2 separate regions of the Homo sapiens genome follow, and region 2 is linked to region 1. Evidence: fine-mapped expression QTL. Tissue or cell type: atrial appendage. Region 1 holds a variant in brackets; the other region holds the start of a gene. All regions are shown on one strand. Distances are from middle to middle.

Region 1 (8,108 bases):
CACAGATTATAAAGAGCCAGGCTTGGAGAGCTTGATCATAGAGTTTTATGGGAAAGGCAAGGTGGTCATCCCCTAGGGTACCCAATTGCTCTCACACTTTGGCCTGCACCTCAAGGTGGAGAGTGAGTATTATAGAAATAAACAGGAAGGAGGGAACCAGGTAACACTGGAGCGAGTGATCTGTTTCCCTGGGTTCTAGCCTCTGGGAGATGCCCCATAGTTGGTATGGTGCCAACATGGTGGACAGTGAGAGTGTGGCTTGATGGGGAGGTAAGTTCTCAGTGGAGACTCTGAGATGATGCTACTGGTTGCCTTCAGCCTGTGTGCAGTGTGCAGAGACAGCTAGCCTCGACATCATTCCTGATCTCCAAACTCCATATGTTGCACATATGTCCTTGAGTATTCCATGGGCCCAGCAAAATCCTAAATTGAAGACCCCTGCTTCCAAGGCCACTACATAGGCCCCACCTCTGGATGCTCCATCTCCATAGCCAGCACCATCATTTACCTGCTCAGGCAAATCAGGAATCCAAAGGGCACCCAGGAGACCCTTTTCTCACCCTACCCCTGCATCCAGCCATTCCCCACTTCCTGATGAATTTACACGCTAAGTTTTGTTTGAATGTCTCCTCTGCATGCTTAGCTCCCCATGCATGGATCAGGCTGCTGCCATCACCGTTCACCCTGACTATAACTACCGGCCCTAGGTGGTCTCTTTGCATTTGGTTTCACCCTTCATTATCCATGCCTTCCTCGACCTTCCCAGTGACTGATCCAGCAGTATCTCCTACCACGTCATGCCCCACCAGTTCTGAATCAGCTGCAGTTTCCCGTACGCAACATACCATCTCACACTTGCACACCTTGGTTAAAAGTGTTCCTTCTGTCTCAAATGATGTCCTTCCCAGCATTCTTCTCCTGGCTCCTACACATGCTTCAAAGCTTATCTTGGGCAATATCTCATTTTAAATGATTTATTGAGCATGTGTTTTGTGCAATATGGAGGGCTGGAGAAGCACCTAGAAAGGGCACTCAGTCTTGACTTGGAGGATCAGGGAAATCACCTGACTAGAAATGTCATTGAAGATTCTCAGAGCTGAGTTTCAGAGGAAGAGGAAATGGACAGGTGAAGGAGTAGGGAGAAGGCTAAAAGTTTTTGAAGCACTGGAAACACCATATAGGACCTGTGGGGCTGGTGCTGCTTGTGAAATGAACTGAAGTAAATTCACCACGGCAGAGGCTAGAGCAAAGAAAAGAAAGTAGCAAGAAAGGAAGATGAAGGGGCTGGAGGAGCCAGATGACACAGAGCCTCGTAAGTCTCTTCAAAGAATATGGAATTTATGCAAAATGCAATGGGATGACAACAAAGGCAAAGCTCTAAGTTGGTTGAATTTCCCATCTCTCCAGCTTCTAGATCCTCCCTTACAGATTTCTTATCAGTTTATGTGTCTGATGCCCCATTGGATAGTAGGTTCCTATATAGCAATAATCATTTCTTCTTGATCTTTGTTTCCTTGTACCTAACACAGATTCTACCCCAGGATAGGATTTTAATAAATGCAGTGAGCTCAGTGTCACCACTGAAGGGACAGAGATCTACCCAGGATGTGGCAGAGCCCATCTATCCCAGACTCCTGCATAGGAGCATCACAAATGAAAGTGTGGGGTTCTTGCCTGCCTCAGCACCACAAAACCTTAATTGTCAACATGATACCATGTGACAGGAAAGAGCAGCTGTGATGCTATGCAGGCAAACTTGATCCCTGGGGAATCCTGCCCCAGAGGTATCTCTTGGGTGGCCCTAATAGGAATGTACCAACTCCAGGGCCAGGGAGGGTTGTATAGTGAGGACCCAGATGGAGGCACACTTGAATTGGCTGTAGGCTCGTGAGGGACACTGAGGGTTTGGCTCAGTGGGAGAGGAGTGAGAGAGCCTCAGGGGACTCTGAAGAAAGCACCAGTGAAAGCCACAGGGTCACCAGGGGTTCTTGTGGAGACCAGTTCCTGTGGAGACTGGAGTCAGACCAGCCTGAAAAGGTGGAGGCTCACAGCTGTTTGAATCGGGACAGCAGAGGAGAGGATCCAGTCCCCAGAGGGCTCACCTGACTCTCCTTGCACCTAAGGAGATCATTGACTTGGTTGGCACTGACTGTGTCTGCATCTGTCTCACTCACCTGCCCTGCAACTCACCAAAATCACAACTGACTTTTATGGGCCTGGCATATAATATACATTAAATAATGCACATTTATTAAATAGGTGACGCAAATTAATATAATTTAAATTCCATGTATCTACTGGGGACTACTAGAGTGGGGAGGAAGGAAATGGGGCAAGGGTTGAAAAACTAACTGTTGGGACTATGCTCACTATCTAGGTGATGAGATCAATCATATCCCAAGTCTCAGCATCAGGCAATATACCCCTGTAACAAACCTGCACATGTGCCCCCTGAATCTAAAGTAAAAGTTGAAATTATTAAAAAATTTAAAAATAAAAAATTCTATGTGTTTATAGGCTGTTTTGTTCATTTGCTGAATCCCCAGCACCTAGAATGGGGCTGGCACGTAGCAGGTGCTTGAAAATTGTTTAACATATTCACTCCATATAATGAAAAGTAATTATTATTATTACGGCTCAAGGAGGGTCAATCTTTCTCCCAAGGACACACCACTTAAGAGGACAGATGGGCTAAATCTTGCCAGTTCCAAACTGGTGACTTTCCTGGGCTGCAGGAAAAGAGCTGAACTGTCCTGGGCCCACGTGGATTTCCTGACCTTTCAAGAATGGGATCTGTGGGGCAGCTGCCTGGCTGAGTTAAGAGCAAGGGCTTTGGATGGAGGGGCTGAGAGTCAGAGGAGAGGCAGAAACACAGTCCTCGCCAGGGCCTGTGCAGATTCGCTGAAACAAGAACCTAGGTAGTGCTTCGCACATAACACTCAAAGTGTTGGTGATTAAAGGAGAGGCCAGAGTTGAAACCATGCTTGGAATTATAAAATTAGTAGAAAAAAACACCTGGAAGAACAAGAGTGGAGGAGAATGTAAAGCCCCAGGACTGAGTTGTGGGAGGCCCATGAGTGCAGAGGGCAGATGAAATCAGAGAGGTGGCTAGTAAGCCAGGATAGTGTGGTCACAGGAGTTCTGAAAGGAAAGTTGTAGACAAAGGAGGTCATGAATAGAGTGGACTAGGACTGTCAAAGTCAGCTGAGCTTGGCTGAAAGGAGGAGGAGGCGTGGCATTTAACAGCAAGGGATTGGGTTCAATTCTCTACTCAGCCGTTTGGCTAGCTATGAGACCTGGGAAGTGACTTACCTCTCAGAGTTTCATCTTATCTACAAATCAATAGGACCAATTAATAAGGCTAGGAAAAATGCCTTGCCCAGTACTTGAAATAAGGCAAGCACTAGATAAATGCTGCTGAGATTGTGTTGGTGTTGGTGGTGTTCTTGCAACTAACGACCTTTAAAAAAAATTATCAGTTTAGTAGGGAGAAAGGAAAGGTAGGGGAGGAAGATGGGAACTTGGTTGCAGAAAGTTTCGGGGAGGGGGTGCCAAGGAAATGATGGGTATAGATTACCTTGCTGAAGAATTTGGTAGTGAATGGAAGCTAAGAAATCCAGAGTTTGGGCTAGCAGTTTCTTTAAGAGAGAAAAGGCAAGTGAATGTTCACAAGCAAAAGCGAGGGAACTAGTAGAGATGGAGGAACTGGAGATCTCAGCGAGAAACAGCAAAAGCCAGGAACAGGCCACAGGAGTAGGCAGGGATAGCCCAGAGGAGAAGGGGGCACCCCTGGCCCTCTCTGCACCCTTGCCTACTTTAGCTCCTTTACCAGCTTTTTCCTGTAGACTGAATTGGTCAGTTTTTCTCCCAGCCTCTTTCAGGGAGTGTAGTAAAAGGAAGGCTTGCTTAGAAGTCAAAAAGCCGGACACTGGCCACGTGTATTTGGCTGAGCCTTTGTCCTTCCTGAGCCCTTGTTTCTTCATCCATAAATAAGGTGGCTGGATTGATCATTTCTGTGATTCTGTGAACATGTCATCTCACTAAGCATTATGAAACATTTCCTCTTCTGAAGTTCTTCTTCACTCTGATTAGAAGGAAGAGGAAAAAAAAGTCTTTAAACGGAAGCTATCACTTCCTCCAGCAATTGGGACAATATTTCTGTGTTTCACATGAAGA[A/G]CTAGCAGATCCAGTGATTCCATCCTTGCTGGCAGATCTCTGCTGAGCCTGCTGGTGTTTTAAATAGCACATGCACTTTGTCCTGGCCTCCTGGAATGAAGCAAGGGAGAAGCCAGGGGTTTGTGCTAGCTGACTGTTGCTGTTGATGAGGCACTCAATGGCTGCAGCCTTCTAGATCTTCAGAAATAACAACAATTACTGTACACGCCACAATCTCTCCTCCAAGTCAGCAAATGCATCAGCTGCTGGTTATTTTGATACCCTGGATAAAAGGCTCTTTCGAGAAAATCTAGTACAGAAAAACATTCTTATCCTCTGCTTGTCTGCACCATTCCTCTGGCCGCTGCCCTCTCAGCTGTTTTTCATTCCTATGAATGTAGCTGGTCCAGGCCCAGAAGTCCTTCTCTCAATGACCCAAGAGAAGGACATTTCTGTTTGAACCTTCTTGAAAGTGGAAGAGGCAGGGGAAAAGGCACCTGGCTGTGGTCTCTGTGCCAAAGGCAGGCTGATCTGGAACCTGCTGGAAACCAATCCAGTGTTGGTGGGTTGTCTGACAGTCACAAATGACTCTGACCGTTGTTGGATTCAACAAGTATTAACTGAGCACCTACTATAGGCCAGGTCCTATGCTAGGACCTAGGGAAACTGTGATAAACATGGCCAGGGACTAATAATCAAGCCCCCACTAGAACATAAGCTCTCTGAGAGCCGGTACCACTGCCAGCACACAGTGCCTGGCATATGGTAGGCTCTCAATCAATAATCTTTGGAGTATTTTTGTGTTTGTTGTTTACATGTTCTTATTTACTCAAGATCCTTGAAGTCCAGGGACAGAAATAGAGGTAGTTAGGGGCAGAAAGGAGCTCTTATTAAATCAACATGTGCAAGAAGAATATGACCAACAATTTAGGGGGTGAGGATGGAGCATATAAGCAAACTTATAATCTGCTTACATCACTTAAAGTTTCCCCCTTACATACCACATGGAAAAGAACCACAAGTGTCCCAAATCCTTTTGTCCTTCTGAATGATGCCACAAGAACACATACAAATGCTCTGCATTCAACAACCAAATTCTCTGTTATTCTAAAAGTTTAATTTCATACCCAAATTCTCAGGCAGCTATTATGTAAGGCTTGGGGCTAGTGCTTTCCAAACAAGTTTATACATGACATGATTGATGGATGAATTCATCCTGTTATCTGGAAATTCTTTTGTTTAATTGACGATGATAAATTTCCTAATGGATCACCTCGACTATGATACTACTTTTGTAGAAAGGGCCATTCACAGTGTTCCCTGGCCTCTTGCCCTCACTTCCAAAGTGTGTTCATACACCAGCCTGTATCTGAACAAGTCAGAAGTGGACAAGCCTAAGGCTGGGAAACAACAAGGTCACACCAAAGCTAAGGCTGACTTCCAATTCCAGGGCTTTTTGCCTATTTCATCCTTCTCAGAGCATGTGTAAATGGAATGAACTTTCTTATGGGAGCAAACGTGAAAATAGAAAGAAGTAAGACCTCAAGACTAATCTGAATCAAGGGAGTTGGAAATGCCTAGTCAGGGCTTCATCTTGCTCAAGTGCCATCCATTAAGGGTAAATGACCACCCCCAGACTTAGGACAGGAATCATCTGCTTCACTAAATCCCAGTTCCCTGGAGGGTGCCCTTCTGCTAAGTTGCACTGGCTGGTGTTACCAGCAATAGGGAGATTCTGTGCCCCACCTTCCCTCCCTGTTACTCTCCTCACACCTACTTCTCCTCTGTGGCATCCATACAGGGTAGGGGTCCAACCCACCTTTGCTATAGGAAGAAGCGAAGGCACAGACAAGCTCAACACGGGAGGGAGTGGGGCTGTAAATTTCCAAAGAGCTACGAATCCCCTGGAATGCTACAATTAATGATGCACATTTGGTGACAAATTTGACTTCAGGGGTATTTCTCCCTTGCTCATTTTATGCTGGGGTGGGAACAGCCCTGGCAGAGGGGCAGGGGAAAGTCAGGCAAGCTCTCCTGTCAGGCTGAATCGAGGGAACTCAAGAAATTTTGAAGGGTCAGGAAGAATTTGTGTGGGGCCTGGAGTGTGGAGAGGGGGGCATGGGGGCCTAGGGTTTGCTGGCTATATCAGTCTGGGGTCACAGACCCCTTGCAAAACTGATGAAAGCTGCGGACCTTCAGCTCAGAAAAGAATATTAGCATTGCACACAGTCGCGCAAATCAGCCTACAGTTTCAGAGGGGCCAAGGACTCCGGGAAGTTCCTGGAACCCAGGGCCTTAAGTTAAGGTCCCGGCTCTAGCTCCTGACTCCTGAAGTCCTCTGCCCCTTGTCCCCATGCTGGACTTGCCGGGCCTGGGGGCCTTCTAGCTGGTTCTGCAGCCGCCTTCCCTTGTCAGAGGAGCTTGGGCACCTGCCCCTCGCGGAGCTCCCCCTGGGTGCTCACCTATCCTGGGATAAGGAAAGGCGCCCCGAAGAAAAGGAGCAGCCGATGCCTGGGGCACCGAGGGCGACGCCGGGCAGACCAGGGAGGCACTGGCGAAGGGCAACGCGCGGGGGCAGGGCGGAGAGGTGAGGGAAGCTGCGAGCAACTCCGCCCAGCCCCAGCCAGTCGGCCCAACGACCCCTGCCGGTGCCCCAGAAACTCCCCCTCCCGGCTTTGCGCGCGCGGCCCCTCAGACCCCAGTGGGTTTCCCTTTGACCTCTGAAGGTTTAAAGTCCTTCTCTGGCTGGGTCTGGCCAGCCCTCCAGGAGCGATCCGTCTGTAGTCCCCAGGACCCCCTCCAGCCGGGCACCACAGCCCAGCCACAGCAGGTGCGGGGCTGGTGGTGGGGAGGGGAGGGATGGGGGCCAGGATTTGGAGCGTGTGACTCAGGAGTACGGGAGGAGGGGCTAAGAATTCAAGAAGCCTGTGTGAGAGCAGCTCGGCGCTCCGGCACAGCAGAGAGCGCTGGGAGCCGGAGGGGAGCGCAGCGGTGAGTCAGGCTGCCCCGAGCCGATCCCGAGAGGGGCGCAGCGCGGGCGCGGGCAGGGGTGGCTGGGCTTCGCGGGAGAGTTTGCAAGGATACCGGTCTGGCGAGCTCTCTGGTTACCCCCGAGGCTCCCGCAGGCCGAAGAGCAGCCCTGAGAAATGTCCCGAGTGGGTGTGGGGGCGCGGGACCCTCGCGGGAGGACGAGTCGGACCGAGGGAACAGCGTTAGTTCTGGTCGTGGAGTCCCTAGTCCCAGGATGGCCTGCAGTCCAGGGAGCAGCCCTGGCGCCTGCAGAAGCCCACGGCCATGCCAGGGTCTAGCTCGAGGGCTAGAAGTGGATAACGCGCAAGTGAGGGAGAGCGAATGGGCGCGGAGAGGGATGCGCCGGCAGCTGGCGCGCCAGGGCGGGAGGAGTGGCGGCCAGCACCGCGGGGGGAGCGCAGAGCGCGCTGGCTGAGGTGAGCGCCGAGTAGGGAAAGTGCTGCGCGGCCCCCAGGTAGGGGGAGGAGCGGAACGGGGCGCGCTAGACCTGGGGCAGTTCCCTCAGCGCGTCTCGGAAGGGCTGGGAGTCGTGACTGAGGGCCCCGGGGGTTAACGCAGGAAGTCTGCGAGCCAACGCCGGGGTCCGTCCGGCGTACCGGGGCCCTCCACGGAGCCGCGTTGGACAACCTCAGGTAGAGGTCGCCAAGGTTCAGCCCTGCCACTTGGGTCACACGCTTCATCTCCAGCTGTCTGCTGCCAGGTGTGGGAGAAGCGGGCGTGGAAGGTTAGGGCGGGGAGCGCCTTGAGTTCAGGCGAGGAGGATCTAGGGGAGGGAGAGAGGACTCAGGGGTCAGGGAGCTGCAACTTTGAGCCAGCAGAAACAAGCAGCTTAGCTCCCTCTAATTACAAACCTCCTTCTAAAAAAAAAAAAAAAAAAAAAAAAAAAAAAAAAAAAAACAAAAACAAAACAAAAAAAATTTCGA
Region 2 (8,099 bases), 430 kb before region 1:
GTATTATCTTATAGTTATGGAGGTTAAAAGTCTAAAATGGGTTGTGGGGCTGCATTCCTCCTGGAGGCTTTCAGGGAAAATCCTCTCCTGGCCTTTTCTACCTCTTAGAGGCTGCCTACATGCTTTGGCTGCTGGCCTGTGTCATTCCAGCCTCTGCTTCCATCCTCCATCTCCTTCTCTCACTCTGACCCTCTTGCCTCTGTTTCACAAGCATCCACCAGGATAATCCAGGCTAATCTCTCCATCTCAAGATCCGTAATTTAATCACATCTGCAAAGACTCCTTGGTCATATTAGACAACACACACACACACACACACACACACACACACACACACACACACACACACACAGGTTCTGAGGATTATACTGGACATCCTGATGGGGGGTGGGGGAATGGGAAGGCACTATTCCGCCTACCATACCCTCCATTTGGACCCTTTGATATGACCTCCATATTAGGGTTTTTTTTTTCTGTTCTTTTACTGCTACCCCTGAGAACCCTGTATTTCCCCCCTAGTTCCAGGACAAAGTAGCCCTAAGCTTTCCATTTATCTGTTCTTGTCTACTGAATTAAATTTTTCCTTCCTTCTTTCCTTCCTTCCTTCCCCTGTCCTTCCTTCCTTCCTTCTCTCTCTCTGTCTCTCCTTCTCTTGTTGCTGCTGTTAAAATACCTGGCTTTTTTTTTTTTTTTTTGAGATGGAGTCTCACTCTCTTGCCCAGGCTGGAGTGCAGTGGTGCAATCTCGGCACACTGCAGTCTCAGCCTCCCAGGCTCAAGCGATTCTCCTGCCTTAGCCTCCGAGTAGCTGGGATTACAGGCAGGTGCTATTATGCCTGTCTTTTTGTATTTTAGTAGAGATTGGGTTTCGCTATGTTGGCTAGGCTGGTCTCAAACTCCTGACCTCAGGTGATCCTCCCGCCTCAACCTCTCAAAGTGCTGGGATTCCAGGCGTGAGCCACCGGGCCCGGACACAAAGTAATGCTACAGATTTATTTAATAAGCATTTAATGAGAACTACTACTTGCTATGAGGATGCTGTGAACAGATGCTGCCCCTGAAGCAATGAGGTTCAGCGGGGAGAGGGAGAAGGATCTCCCGTGAGAGGAGTGTTTCCAAGGAGAAGTATAGTGTGTAAGGGGAGTGAGTGTCCGCTCCTGGTCTACACTGAGGGCCTCCTTGAGTAGGTGACATTTGTCAAAACCTGGAATCATATCGGTGGAGCTTTGGGGCTCTTTTTCAGGATAGCATTGATCTCTTTCTGCTCGTTTCTGTTGAGGAGTTTCCTGGTGCAGAGGAGGCAGGAAGGCTCCAGGGACCACCTGTTAAAGTTGAGAGAAAAGGAGGGCCTTGGGGTTGCTAACAGGCTTGTTTAGATCTGGCCAGAGGATGCTGGAGGCTCATGGAGCACAGGGCTCTAGACCCGAGCATTTCTGCACTCTTTCTACCAGGCCAATAGGCTGTGCTTCCTTCCAGGAACGGGAGCAAAGAAATAGGCCATTTTCTGTTTTGTCCACTGGGTGGAGTATTTTAGCCAAAGAAGGGTCCTTTGGCAGCAGTGACATTGTAGGCGATCTTTGCCTTGGAGAAGAGGCAAGCTTGGACTCGTCCGGAGTCACGCCCATCAAAACCCTCCTCCGCAGCTAACACTCATCAGACTTCATCACACTGTGTGTTGGGCTGAGGCCTATCCTGGTAAAAGAAAATCTTATAACAGATTTTAACATCTTAGAGCCAGAAAGGGGGCCTTAGGAGCTTGGTGACTCTAACCCTCTTTCACAAATTGGAAGTGCTAGGGCCCGAGCCTCAGGGCTCCTGACCTAATCACACAGGCAGGCGGAACGCAGGTCTCCTGCCTTTCTGGGGGCGGTTCTTTCTCTGAGGCACCTCAGAGGCGCCCAAATGGAGACCTGCAGACCTTCGAAGGGAGGCGTGAGCACATACGTTTCTCTTTGTAGATAAAATGGTCTGAGAGAAAAATCATTCTGCCACCTGTCAAGAATAAACAAAGTAAATGAGCTAGGTTAGATTAAGGGACTGTAGTTGGCGGCCACTCACAGTGAAGGACTGGAAATGGTTAGCAAAACAAGGGGCCTACGGCATATATTGTGACAACAATAAACATTTATTTGTATTGATTTGTGTGTTTTGTTCTACCCCTTCTTGTTTAAAAACAAAACAAAAAGTACCTACTAATGGCACATAAAAATGCACACATTTCAGCACAACCACATAAACTAGAAGTACATGACACATTGGCTTGGGGCGCAGCTAAAGCTGGAACAAAACAGCTGATTTGCAGGATGTAAGGTTGACTCAGAAATGTGTGAAGCATTCTTTGTTTAAAAAATAAATGAATTGGCTGGACCTGGTGGCTCACACCTGTAATCCTAGCACTTTGGGAGGCTAAGGCAGGCGGATCACCCGAGATTGGGAGTTCAAGACCAGCCTGACCAACATGGAGAAACCTCGTATCTAATAAAAATACAAAATTAGCCAGGCGTGATGGCACGTGCCTGTAATCCCAGCTACTCGGGAGGCTGAGGCAGAAGAATGGCTTGAACCTGGGAGGCGGAGATTGTGGTGAGCCGAGATCGCGCCATTGCACTCCAGCCTGGGCGACAAGAGCGAAACTCCATCTCAAAAAAAAAAAAAAAAAAAAAAAATTAAAGTTGGTGAGCAATAAGACAGAGGAAAAACAAAAATAGGAAAATGAAAGGCAGACAGAAAATAAGCCTGGTACGTTAAATGTAAACTATGAAAACCTACCTTTTGCTGAGAGTGGGGCATGAATGTAGACCTCATATCTACCATGGATGCTTGGGGGAAACCTGATCACCACAGCATATGTCAGTGGCTGCATGTCCTCAGGGCTGGGCTGCCTGGCCCAAATCGAGTCCATGATCTAGGGGCAGGAACTTTCCACAGCTCGGGCTTTTTGTAGTAAACCAGAGTTGAAGGCTAAACTAAAGTTTAAAAAATTATTTCTTTTCCCTTATAGTTTTGTCAATTATAAGTCAGAAGGAAATTAAAAGACTCTGACTTTAAATAGCTTCCAATTTTTCAGTAACAGTTAAAAAAAACCTACTTACATATTAAGAAAAGTGGAGCAAATTCTAAATAAAGGTAACCCAGTGAGATCGAGACAACTGGGAACAGTCTGGGGAGGCTGACCTCAAAAAGACAAGACACACATTGTTTCACTCGGAAATCTTTTTCCCCTTAAATTTCCTAAAGAAAGCAGAGATCTTGCATGCTTGCCACTGACTTGGAAAGCTAAGTGCACCTTAGAATGGATATTCTTGGCTCCATCTTTTGAAAACTTAGAGACTACACCATTAGAAAGAACGGAATACCGTCAAGGGTTTTAGTGATGGGTTCTTCAAGGCCCCAACTTTCTGCACATGAGAGTGTAGCATCAAGACAACCCCTTATCAGCCTGACTCTCAGTGTAAGGCCGTCTGACTGCAGGGGAGCCTTGCTTTACTCAGAGAGGCCACGGATCTTCTCTTTGCCTTCTAGCCCCTGCAGAAGCTGTGCATGACAGAGTACTCTGTCTTTCCAAAGCTGATTTATAACTGAAGGAGAACAAAAACTTGGTCAGAATCATGAATGCCCTAGATGCCTTTGAAGAGTGGAGAGACATGACTGGACTAGGGTTGGACTGGAAGAGATGGTCAAGAAGGTACTTAAGAAAAGGGGTGTCTGCAAGGGAATCACCCAGAGTCAGAGGCAAAACAGCCAGGAGCAGCAGCTTTGAGGCAGGGTTGGATTCTTGCTCCGGCAGTTAGAAATGCTGCAAACTCAGACAAGTTGCTGTTAGCTCAGCGGTAGGATGAGCCCTGATCCCTTTTGCCCCAATTGCCTACTGGATTCAAGGAGAAAATGGACAAGAAAGGGTTCACAAACCATTCATATTAGAAACAGACAAATATCCATTATATAACCAATGTTCCACCAGCTCCAATGAGAAGTAAGTATAATAGCTACTATTTTTGAGCACCTATTTTGTGCCATGCTTTTTCATCTATGTGTTTGAAACTTTATGGTTATTATCAGCCCCACTTTACATAGAGGGGAACTGAGAATCAGAGAGGGCAAGTGACCCTCCAAAGTTCATTAGCTGTTAAAAGGCAGAGTAGGGATTTGAACTGTGAACCTTGTTTCATTTTAGTTTAATGAGGACAGGTTCTTCTGGTGTCAGCTGGGTTCAGCAGGGTGTCCCTGCACCCCTCGCCCAGTGGCTGGCAGAGGATTTTTAAGAAGAGAGGAGGGAAGGCAGAAAAAGACAGGAGTAGAACATGAAGAAGTCTACCTCGGGGCTCCATTTTGTTCCATGTTGCAGTGAGGAACAGAGGATGAACAACCACCGTGAGGGGACAGGCTGAGTTACCACCCTGGGGTGATTTAACAATTCAGTAATGTATGAGTGTCATTCCGTATGTTTGAACTCTCCATTTGCTTATTGGCACCATAGTCCCTTATCTCTCTCCCTCTCGAGTTTCTTTCTCTTCTTTGACCTTTCTAGCCTCCTTATTTCATGCGTGTACATTCTTGTCTTTTTCCTTCTGCCTCTTCCCTCTTCACCAGTCGGACAGACTGTATCAGCGAATCCCTCTACAGTGTCGTATCTAACTTTTTTATTCATTGCATGATTTATTTTTAGCCTGAAACAACTGCATCCTAAAAATGGAGTTCCTAATGAGACAGAGGCTGAGCAGAGCTATGTAAGGTATCTGGGGCTTGGCCTCCCAGCCTCCCTAGCTTGGCTGTTTTTCTACTCTCATGCGTGCGTGCGTGCGTGCGTGTGTGTGTGTGTGTGCCTCTGCTCTTTGTCCTGAGCCCACGATTCCAGAGCTGGCTGGACCCAAGGAGGTGAAGAGTCACTTTTCAGCCCCAGGAAGGGCAAAGAAGAGAGAAAATCAGCCTGTCTGCTCTCTCCTTGGCTCAACAAGGCCTCTAACAGTCTTCTGTCCTCTATTCTGCACACAGCATATTTGGGAACGAGAAACAAAAGTTTTCCCAAATGAAGAGAACTCACTTGTTTATTGTGGGGATTTATTTTCTGTCCTCTTGCAGGGCAGAAGAGGGGCTTAATTTCCCCACATATGATGGGAAGGACCGAGTGGTAAGTCTTTCCGAGAAGAACTTCAAGCAGGTTTTAAAGAAATATGACTTGCTTTGCCTCTACTACCATGAGCCGGTGTCTTCAGATAAGGTCACGCAAAAACAGTTCCAACTGAAAGAAATCGTGCTTGAGGTAAGTAACCAAAGGGCATGCTGTCTGCGCTGCCTCAGTGAGGTGCCGAGGGAATGCCTTTGGCCAGGGGTTGGGATATGGGAACGAGGATGCAGAGAATATATACTGAACTCTGCTTTATTTTGGCCTCACGTGAATCAGATGCCCTTGTCACACAGCTGGGATGTGTGAACAATGAGGGGTGGGTCCTAACTCTTCAAATGAAGAGGACCAAACGTGCTACACTACGATGGGTCTGATGTAAAGTCTTTATGGCCCCCTTGACTTTTCAAGGGCCCTTGTCCCAGCCATTGTTTCCCAGATAGAATGTAGAAACTATTGTTAAAACTGTTGGCTGAAATGAAATCCAGGGACTACTTGTGGATTTCATTCAGTGTGCCCACTTTGCTCCCTCAAATCTCCCCATGATCCTGGAGAGACCAGAGTTACTTGACCTTGCGTCTCTCTGGGGGTCAGACGGAGAATATCACTAAATGACTTTCCTCTCTCTTGTTTTGCGTCAGTCAGCATTACAGAATGTAGTTGTGTGCAGATCTTCTGAGCAGCATATTCATTTATGTGATTTTTTTTCTCAGAAAGTTCTTGGTGTGACTTTAGGGCAGAGCTGAAGTCAGTTCTTATTTTATCCGCATTACATGGCCTGCCTGTTTGTAACCTGGCACTGGGGCCCATTTTCTAATCCTTTGCGAGTGCCCCAGAAACTATTCCTGCAGCTCCTCCTGGACAGCTTAAGATGGCTTACACTTTAAGAGGGCCTGAGGGTGCCAAGAATGCTAGTGGGCACCAAGATGCCTCATCAGTCTCCACGCCTAGCCCAGGCGCAAACCTGTGAAAGGGATATTTGAGAATTACAGTTTATTAACCAGCACAATCAGAGAACTCAGGTTGATGAAATAGTTTAATAGGATTATCATATAAAACCCATGTGGATTTGAATTTTTTCAAATTGAAAAATTGACTGTAATAAAATCCAGCAAAACTATCCCAAATACATCAAAAGTATATCTCCAACCTTGGGTGCTGAATGTGGAATTTCAGTTCTCTCTGTGGGTTGCAAGAAAAGAGAAAGCAGGGATAGTTATTAAGACTTTATTTTATAGAAATGAGCAAATCACAGGCTGGAAAAGAACGAGACATAGAACTTAGCTGCTGCTTAGCACATGAAACCAACACTTACATTATATCTCCATCTCAAACTGCCATACTCAGTTATCAAGAGACATTGTTATGAAAACTTAATTGAAGGCATAAGGATTCTCCCCTATATGCTCATCGCTGTCCAGTTAGCCTAGAACTCCAAAAGAATGCCTTTGGGTGGCCAGTACAGGCAAGGACATTCATTTCTGATTCTAATTTTTTTTAAAAAAGAAATATCTTTCTATCATCCTTCTATCTATCTATCTATCTATCTATCTATCTATCTATCTATCTATCTATCTATCATCTCTAGCTCCCCCAAGTATATCTGTCCCCAAAGACTATGCAAAATCATGAACAGAAACTTCCCCTGGGCTTACCATCCCTCCAGACACCTTTGATCCAAGAGTGCCCTTTTCACAGTGGGTGCCGGCCCAGCAGAGACCGATAAGGAAAAGTTCACCACAGGAGTTAATTTGATGCCCCTCAGGCTGCTAAAGCTGGAGTGAGGCATCATTAGGAGAAAAAGAACACAGACCTTGAAGTCAGGATATCTGGATTTAAGTTCTGGCTTTGTCTCTACTAGGCACAGGACACAGGGCAAATTACGTAATTTCTCAGAGCTTCATTTTCTTATCTATAAATATGGAAAAATAGTAACTATCATGCAGCTTAAGAAATGATTAAATAATAATAATGTTGATTAAATGCTTACTAAGTGCAGGGACTGTTCTAAGCACTTGGTATGTGTTAGCTTGTTTAATCCTTACAATAATTCTATTAAGTAGGTACAGTTACCAATTCCATTTTATAGATGTGGAAACTGAAGCAGAGAGGCTAAGTTGTCCAAGGTCACACAGCTACTACAGATGAAGGCAGTTGTACGTAACACCTACACGGTACTACTCCTGAAATCAGTGCGAAAACGCCCAAGGGGCTTCTGGGTAGCCTGTTTAAGATGGTTTCAAGAGTCTTCCTTAAACAGAGTTGCTCAGCCTCTGGACCCGGGTCTGATGATGCCAGCTGTACACCAGCATGGCCGAGAAGTACATGGCCTGGAGGCGCTGCTCATGCAAAAGTGCAAACTGAGGAGGAGGCCTGGGCTCCATTAGTGAAGGTTGAGGAAGGGGCGGGCCTTTGTTGAGATACTTGTCAGGCGCAGCATCAAGGGAAAAAATGGCTCCGGGAAGTCCATGAGTGGAAAGAGCGAACATGCCTTTAAACTTTCTTCATGGTCAAAACATCTATTTTGTCCTCTTAATCCTCTAGACCCCACACTTGCACTAAGAAAAATAGTCTGTCAGCTTCCAGGGCTGTGGCTGTTAGGGGGTAGGGGGAAAAGAGGAGGCAGTTCCCAGTGTCCATCCAACAGGCAGTGTGGTCTCAGCCACGGACAAATAGCTGGAGGGGAGGCAGCTCCCTTCCCCCTCGCAGCTTAAGGCGGCTTCTGACACTTTTTATCATAACCGACTATGACCCAGTATATACAGACACACACAGACACACACACACACCAGAAACAAAAATTTCATATGAACTATACTTATTATTATTACTTGGGGAATTAAATTTTTTTTTCTATTTTTATCCTGTTCTCTTCTATTTCATTTTAAAAATTGATCTCAACCTATTAAGTTGATTTCCCTCTCCAGTGAGGAGTTGCCATCCCCAGGCTGAAACACCTGAGGAATTTCTAGGAATTA

The links. PIP is the estimated chance that this variant, and not a neighbour inherited with it, causes the effect.
Region 2: CASQ2 starts here. The variant in region 1 is fine-mapped to the expression of CASQ2 in atrial appendage (GTEx, PIP 0.99).

What each region holds. Positions count from the first base shown.
Region 1 is chr1:115,337,242-115,345,349 of GRCh38, reverse strand. NGF (nerve growth factor) reads left to right here and starts at 7,101. Exons shown (of 3, transcript NM_002506.3): 1 at 7,101-7,146. The region is part of intron 1 of NGF-AS1 (NGF antisense RNA 1); the gene reads right to left. The variant A/G (reference allele first, on the strand shown) is at 4,177.
Region 2 is chr1:115,765,468-115,773,566 of GRCh38, reverse strand. It overlaps CASQ2 (calsequestrin 2), which reads left to right and starts at 4,853. Exons shown (of 11, transcript NM_001232.4): 1 at 4,853-5,259. The coding sequence starts at 5,026. RefSeq lists an enhancer at 1,541-1,800.